Regions from separate parts of the Homo sapiens genome. Here region 2 is linked to region 1. The links come from fine-mapping of genetic effects on gene expression. Tissue or cell type: activated CD8 T cells. Region 1 holds a variant in brackets; the other region holds the start of a gene. All regions are shown on one strand. Distances are from middle to middle.

Region 1 (4,103 bases):
AGTCAATCAGCTCCTTTTTCCTATACCAACAATTATTTCTGGAACTAAGTAAGTTGAGTCTAAAGTTCATATGGAAAAATAAACATCCAGGCCATCCTAGAATAATTCGTGAGGGCATGGAGGCGTGGAGTCCATGGCGCACCAGCATGGCTTGCAAAGCTACTGTAGTAAAATGCGGTTTGGGGCTGGTATGAAGATGGGTGGACCCATCAGTGGAACAAGGCAGACGCATTGACTGCGTTGTAAAGGCAGCATTTCAAATGGTCTTGGCACAGCTGGCTCACCCCCTAGACAAAGGAAAAATGGCGTCTCTCCCTCAAATCAAAGACTTAAGGGCAAAAAAACAAAAGCACTAGAAGAAATCATGAAAGATGTTTCTAACAAAATAATTTCAGCATGCGCAAGGCCTTTTGAAGAATGAAACAAAACACAGGAAGCTTAAAAGGAGGTGGGTATATGTGACCACATAAAATAAGGGTCTTAAAGCCAACACAAATGAACAAAACACAGGCACACGAGCAAGTGAAGAATTGGGGAGAAATTTGGCAACTTATATATCAGAAACAGGGGATTAAAGAAACAACAAAAAGAGTAAGTTACAGACCAACCCGTCAAGAGACAAATGGGCAAATGGCCTGAGAAGCTGGTGCAAGAAGGTAAATCCCAGCAACCTATAACCACATGAGAACAGGCTGAGCCTCCTGGGAATTAGAACTACCGTACTGATAGGCTTTGGCTGTGTCCCCACCCAAATCTCATCTTGAACTGTAGTTCCCATAATTCCCTTGTGTTGTGGGAGGGACCAGGTGGGAGATAATTGAATCATGGGGGTGGTTTCCCCCATACTGTTCTCATGGTACTGAAGAAGTCTCATGAGATCTGATGGGTTTATACTGGGAAACCCCTTTCACTTGGTTTTCATTCTCTCTTTGCCAGCTGCCATGTAAGATGTGCCTTTGCTCTTCCTTTGTCTTCTGCCATGAATGTGAGGCCTCCACAGCCATGTGGAACTGTGAGTTCATTAAACTTCTTTCCTTTATAAATTACCCAGTCTTGGGTATGTCTTCATCAGCAGTGTGAGAATGGACTAATACAAGCAGCCAATGAGATTTCACCATCAGGTGTTCCACAATCAATCATTTGAAAGCACGCAGCTTCAGGAACAAGCCCCAGGCTATATCATTGCGAAAATGCAAATCAATATGTCCTTGTTGGCGAACGACTTGGCCAACTCAATCCAAGTTTAAGACACAAAAACCTGGGGCCAAGTGTGGCCTCCCAGAAATCTACCTGGCAGGTACTCACAGAGACTTCCACACTAGGACTGTCTCTGCAACGCTGCAGGGACAGCCCTGAAACCACCAGACACCCCTCAGTTGGAGCCCAGCACAGTAAGTTATAGAATGAACCACTGACGGAGGGCAGGCCACCATCCCTTACTAGCTGTTCTGAAGTCCCCACAAAAGTTCTTCTGGAACTTGCTTGGAAATTTGCAGTGAGACTGTTTATTTTCTCTGCTTCTCCAATCAGGGTAAATATTCATGTTTCAGTGCAGAAACAGTCATGGGCTTTCTTATGGGTTATTTCCCTGGATCCCATGGGAGTGCTGTGTAAATGTACATTACATTTCTAAAATCCTGAGCTCTGAAATAAAAAGCCTGTCGAGCTCCAGGGTTTGGATAAAAGCCTGGGGACCTGCAGTTTCAGCTTTAAAAAGAGTGAGGCCTCAGCCAGGTGGCCAAGGTCAATGTCCCCTGCGATGCATCCTGTTGATGATGTAGACCCCTGAGGGGATGTGGTGAGATGGGCACTTCGCCCCCAGGGTCTTCCTCCCAGTGATTCATCGCTGTAGTCTAACCATGAGAAAAACACTAGACAATCCCAATTGAGGGATGATCCACAAAATGCCCAGGCGGTCCTCAAAACTGTCAAGATCCTCAAAAACAAGGAGTTGGAGAGGAGCCGAGGGAGGCGTGACGAGCAAATCCTGGGTGGGATCCGGATGTGGTCCTGGTGCAGGAGGAGGCTGTGAGGGTGCACGGTGAATGAGGATGGATCAGTGTTGGGTTCATCAGTGACAACAAAGGCACCGTGAGAGGGTGAGATGTGGACAGTTGGGCGCAGGGCAAGTAGAAACTCTATGCCATCTTCTCGATTTTTCTGTAAATCTAAAACTGCTCTTTTAAAAAGCCTATTAAAAATAAAAAGCAGCAGCCTGGCCAAAATGGTGAAACCCGGTCTCTACTAAAAATACTAAGATTAGTTGGGCATGGTGGCGCACACCTGTAATCCCTACTCAGGAGGTTGAGGCAGGAGAATCGCTTGAACCCAGGAGGTGGAGGTTGCAGTGAGCCGAGATCGCGCTGCTGCACTCCAGCCTGGGCAACAGAGCGAGACTCTGTCTCAGAAAGTAAATAAATAAAATTAATAAAAAAAAAAAA[AT/T]AAAATGAAGGACAAGGTACTGTCAAGGAACAAGATCCAAGACACAGGCTACAGAAAAACAAAGGGGGAAGTGCAGCTATCACTTTTGTGTGCAAATGGTTCCACCGGGAAGAAGGGGCAGCACGCAGGGCTGTGTTAGATGTGTGACTTGTGAGATGTGACCAGAGCCCCAGGCACACCCTTATTTCTGCCTTTCATGGCCACCCTAAAATTTAAGCAGTGGGAGGCACTGCCTTGTGTCTTAGCCAACAGCTCCCACCCCCCAGCTCCCCAAAGAAATTCTGCTTCCCTCCCCCAACCTCTCCTGCCTCAGAGTTTGGGGGTGGTGAGGAAGTCAGCAGGTGCCTGAAGCTGATGTCCTCCGTGTAATCTGAGGGTTCTGCAGAGATTTGCTCTCATGCCAGGCTGTCCCACCTGATGACCCCTTCCCTCCCCATTGGCTTCTCCCTGCCCCCACTGCACCACTGGAGGGCACCCCTGCTCCCCATAGCGCCCTCCCTCTCAGGCCACTCAGTGCACAGGAATTGCACACCTGTTATTGCTCTTCTGATTCTAGGAAGGGTTTTACAACACGGGTGGGTCATGGACCTGACTCTTCAAAGCCAGGCTACCCTGGGCAGTGGAGGGATCTGGCCTCTGGCAGGGGCAGGCCCTCAGGTTACAGCTGACTCCTGCCACGTGGGTTGTTTCTGCCTTAACAGAGTGGCCCTGATGCTTTGTTATTTTGATCCCAGGGACAGGACAGAGGGGCTTGGAGGCCAGCATTTGAGGAGAGTGAACCACACTCCCTGGCACCGAGAGGGCACCTCAGAGGGCACCCCCCCGCCAGGTGTCCTGAACACTGAGAGGGCACCTCAGAGGGCACTCCCCCCGTCAGATGTCCTGAACACTGACAGGGCACCTCAAAGGGCACTCCCCCCATCAGGTGTCCTGAACACTGACAGGGGACCTCAGAGGGCACTACCCCCGCCAGTTGTCCTGAACACCGAGAGGGGACCTCAGAGGGTACTCCCCCCATCAGGTGTCCTGAACACCGAGACGGGACCTCAGAGGGCACTCCCCCCGTCAGGTGTCCTGAACACCGAGAGGGGACCTCAGAGGGTACTCCCCGCGTCAGGTGTCCTGAACACCGAGAGGGGACCTCAGAGGGCACTCCCCCCACCAGGTGTCCTGAACACTGACAGGGGACCTCAGAGGGCACTCCCCCCGTCAGGTGTCCTGAACACTGTGCTCCTCCTGGCCCAGCTCGGAGGTGTCCCTGTAGGGCTGGCCACCACAGGTCACCGCTGTCCCACCCTCCTCAAATTGCCAGCACACCACCACGGAGCCCACTCCTCCAGGCTGTGACACTTATGAGGCCTTCCTCCTTCCCCTGAGAGGTGAGCATCAGCCTTAGGCCTCTGGGCAACACGCACAGGGCAGGATCAGGTATGAGAGACTCACTAGGGGAAAATCTGTGAGAAAACCGGGGCAGGAGCCTGGGAGGTTGGGAGAAGGTCCAGTCGGGACGTGGGTCTGGGCCCTGGGCAGGGGAGAGGAAAGGAAGGAAGGTTGGGAGCCCTTTGCACGGTGGCTCAGCAGGGCCACTGGGGGGACCTCAAGCCAAAGTCACCACCACCCAGGAACAGATTGCCTGGGTGTCAGGCTAGCCTTGATGCAAA
Region 2 (4,103 bases), 140 kb before region 1:
CTCAGCCACCATCGGTTGCGCGCCTTATCAGCGCGGCACATCTATCTCCGCACGGAACAAAAGGCGCACAGAGGCGCGGGCAGCTGCGCCAGGGCTTTGATGGGGGCGCGGGTGGGGGGTGGGCGGCCCGAAGCGCTCGGCCCCCTCCGCTCTGCACTCGCGGCCCGGCCGCAGGTGAGGCCAGGGCAGCGGGCAGGCACAGGCGCTGGCAAGAGGGCGGGCGGGCGGGCGCCGCCGCTTGGTGACAATCAGCCTTCGCATCTTAACGTGCTGAGATCTGCCATGGGGAGGAGGCGCCCCGGGCCGCGAGCGACAGGGAGGGTCCGCGGCCCTGCCTTCCTCGTCCGGGCCCTTTCTCTGCCCCGGTCCCGGGCCGCAACGAGGATGGGCCGCGGTGGCTCACCGTGCACCCGCCGCGGTCCCAGTTCCCAAAGTGCGCGCGCTCTGCCCGCCCCGCTGGGCTGGGCTACGGGCTCTCGCTGGCGCTGGCGGCCTTATCAGCGCTGGAGATCGGTTTCCAACCTGCGATCTCCCTGTCCGAGCTATCTGCATTTCTCATCACAGTGAAACACCACACACACACACACACACACACACACACACACACACACACCCCAGAACCGAACATAGGCGCTCAGGGAAGGAAGGAAAAAGAAACCAGAGCACAAGCGCGGATCGGGACCTGTGGGTGGCTTTTAATACTTGAGTTGACACGATAGAAGGCGACTTTCGGAAAACAGGTCCCGTTTGCGCTGAGGGAGTTGGGTTACGGGAACCGGTTCATGCCTGTGACCCCCGCCTCGGGAGACCTCCTGAGTAGGGAAGCTCCCACAGGCCCCGCACAAGGGGTCCTGGTGGCAGTGGTCGTGTGGACAAAGGAGGTAGTGCCCGGGCGCCTACGGCTGGGCAGCGGGCGGGTTTCCGTCGTGGCCTCCTGGCAGGGCTCAGACGACCTGCCCGTCAGGCTCCGGGGAGGCGCCCCGGGGAGGAAGACCTGCGTCTGGGCCCTAACTGTGAGGCGCAAAGTTATTATTGGCATAGGGTGGGGAGGGTAGCTTCCTGTGCTCTTGCTCCCTCCTGGCACAGCCCAGAGGCCCAGGCCAGACAGTGGCCCCGACAGCTTAGTTCTCATCGCGGGGGCACTGGCAATGTGGCGGCGGGGCAGCAGCCTCTGACCGGGCAGGGAGCCGGACCAGCGAGAAACTTAGTGGCGTGCAGGGGCGACCCCGGCCCGGGGCTGCGTCCTGGGAGGCCCTTCTCTGACTCAGAGCAGCCCATTGGGATGCCAGGGGGTGCCCGCGGGCATCCGAGGGCACCATTTGTTGCCCATGCCGCCTTGGCTGGGACACTTGCAGGGTCCAGGAGGTGTCACCAGGCTGGCGGGGCCTGGGTTCAGGACTTCAGCGCTAGGGCACGGGGTGGGGGTGTCTGGGGGGCTGGAGCCAAGTGCCTAGGCTGCGGCAGCTGCGCGCTACCCCCTCCCCTGTCCTGCGGCTCTGCGACGGCACCGGTGGGGGTGGGCGCGGGCCGGTGCCTGCCACTTGGCCAGGCATCTCCGCGGCCCCGGGTGTCCCCTCTGCCTCCCAGGTCTCTCTCTTCGCTTCTAGATACAAAGCCTGGGAGAGTCAACCGCGCGAGATAAGATCACAATTTCAGCCCGTCCCGACAGAACGATCTTATCAGGACGGGACTTGCAGAATGTAATATTTTAAACTTTATCTGAGCCCAGATCGGGGCCGCCCTATCGCCGCACCATCTCGCAGATGCGGGGGAGGGGCAGGCCGCGAGGGGCCGAGCTGCCCGGGCCGCGCCCCCAAACACCCTCCTCCCGGCCTCCGGGCGGCCCCCTCCTGGGCTGAACCCCCCGGTGCCCAAGCCGAGACGCGGGGGCCCAGGCCGCCGGCGGAGATTAGATTACGGCGCGCTTGGCACAGCGCGGGGGGCGCGGCGCGGGGTGAAGGTCGCCGGCGCCCAGGGCAGAGCGGGGACGGGCGGGGGCGGCGCTGGCGGCTGGGCTCCGGCGGGGGTCGGGCGCGCGGAGGGGACCGCGGGCAAAGTTTGACTCACGCTTGATCTGCCGGGGGTTGCTCTGTTTCCGCCTGGACATGTCTCCGGCGCCGCGCGCCCTCCCGGCGGCCGCCTCTAGCCCCGGGCGGGCGGCGGCGGGCGGCGGGGGCGCGGCGGGGCCGCGGGGCCGCTCATGCCCCCGGCCCCCGGTCTCCGCGGCCGCCCCGGCCCGCGCCCCCAGCCCGCGCGCCCAGCCCCGGAGCCGCTGGAGCTGCCGCGGAGGCCCGAGAGGCCACGGTCCTGCGTTGCGGGCGCGCGGACTGCCCGACGGGCGGGTGCCGGCTCCTCCGCTCCCGCGCACTCGCCGCCGCCGCCGCGGCCGCTCGGCTTTTCTCAATGGAACCCGCGGGCGGCGAGCGGCGGAGCAGGCGGCCACTGCGAGGGCGCTCCTGGCGGGCTGGAGGCACGGGGCGGGGCCGGGCCTGAGCGTCGTCGGCCGCCGCACCTCCCGCCCCGCCCCCGGCGCTCCGGCCCCGCCCCGTGCCTCCTGCCGGGCCCTGCACCTCTCCGGCTCCGCCCCCAGCGCCGCGGCCACGCCCCCGCCAGCCCGGCTCTTCGTTGCTCTGGCTCCGCCCCCAGAGCCGCGACCGCGCCCCCGCCCGCCTCGCTCTTTACGGCGCTGGCTCCGACCCCAGCGCTGCGGCCCCGCCCCTGTCCGTCTGGGCCTTCAAGGCACTGTCCCCGCCCCGCTCGATGCCCCGCCCCTTCCTGGTTCGGCCCCGCCCGCGCCCCGGGGAGACCTCTAGCCTCCCCCACTCCTCTTTGGCCCGGAGGTCATGTCCCCAGGCCGCGCTGGGAGTCTGAGACCTATTCGGTTCTGTTCTGCTGCCCCGCGGCACCGCATCCTGCGCCCCGCCTCTCGGCGCCAGCTCCGCCTCCAAACCTGACCCGACCTGGTTGGGTCCTGAGACGCCGAGGCTCCGCCCCCGCACTGTAACTCCGCCCCCAGCCCTTGGTCCCTCCCTAGACCCCTGGGCTCTGCCGCACGCTCCACGTGCGCGGTGGGGGCAGTGACAACCGGCTCAGGAAGCCCGAGGCCTTGACGCCCACGTTTCTCTTGGGCCAGACTTGGGGTGTGGAGCGGATTCGGGCCAGGGAGGGGGCTTCCGTCCCAGACTGCGGTGGGGTCCGCCAACTGAGAGCAGGATCTCGGGTCTTCCCCTGTGAGCTCAGACCAGGCTGGAAATCGAGGAGGGGGCGCGGGAGCCGGCAGCCCTGGGCGTTGCCACTTGGGGCCTCTTTCCTCACCGAGCCTCTCCAGGGCGCCCCGCAGGAGACCCACGAAGGAGTTGCCCACAGCGCCCGGGCCACAGCCCCCTCTCGGAGCAGTCAGAGGTCAGCGAGGTTTGTGGGCGCGGTGCTGTCAGCTCAGGCCTGGAAATGGAGAACTGTTGCCCTCTGGGGTGTGTTCAAGAGCCCCACTTCACGGAGGCTCGGGGACTTGCTCAAGGTCACGCATTGGGGGGCTGTCCCCCACTCCCAGCTGAGTTGTATCATCTCCTTTTAATGTTCTCGGTCTACACTTGCTACCTGCTCCCCCATCCCCCGTACTCATAAGAAACGGGCGTCAGTGGGCCCAGGGGCAGACAGGAAGGACCCCTCCCACCTGATGATGAGATCATCGCACAGCAGGACTGTCACACCACCCGCCAGCCTGCTGGGAGCTCCTAAGACCCCATCTCGTGCCAACTTCTGTGACCTATTCCCTGGCTCCAAGGAAGGGGAGAAGTGGGGGCTTACCCTCAGAGCCTGGTACAGGAGAGTGGCGGGTGGGTAGGAGAGGCAGGGGTACAACACTGGATATGCGCCGTCCCTCCCCACTGCCATGGACAGACAGGAACACTGAGACCAGGAGGCCAAGAGAGCTGCCCAGGGGCATACGGGTCCTCCAGCCCTTCCTGCTCTCTGCCAGGGTCCAGTGGGCACAGCCTTCCCACAGCTGCTCTCTGGAGGGGGTGGGGCCCATGTCTGATTGGTTCACTCAACCTAGGACCTCCCCCCCACCCTCCCGCCCCCACCCAGTGCTTGTCAACTGG

What was found. PIP is the estimated chance that this variant, and not a neighbour inherited with it, causes the effect.
Region 2: ZFPM1 starts here. The variant in region 1 is fine-mapped to the expression of ZFPM1 in activated CD8 T cells (Schmiedel 2018, PIP 0.95).

The regions. Positions count from the first base shown.
Region 1 is chr16:88,308,903-88,313,005 of GRCh38, reverse strand. It overlaps a transcript of ZNF469 not described here. Among named protein-coding and RNA genes, the nearest start is that of ZNF469, 72 kb to the left of the region's middle. RefSeq lists an enhancer at 3,694-4,103. The variant AT/T (reference allele first, on the strand shown) is at 2,442.
Region 2 is chr16:88,451,643-88,455,745 of GRCh38, reverse strand. ZFPM1 (zinc finger protein, FOG family member 1) reads right to left here and starts at 2,466. Exons shown (of 10, transcript NM_153813.3): 1 at 2,068-2,466. The coding sequence starts at 2,107. RefSeq lists silencers at 1-521, 1,462-1,531, 1,752-1,881, 2,342-2,431, 2,442-2,741.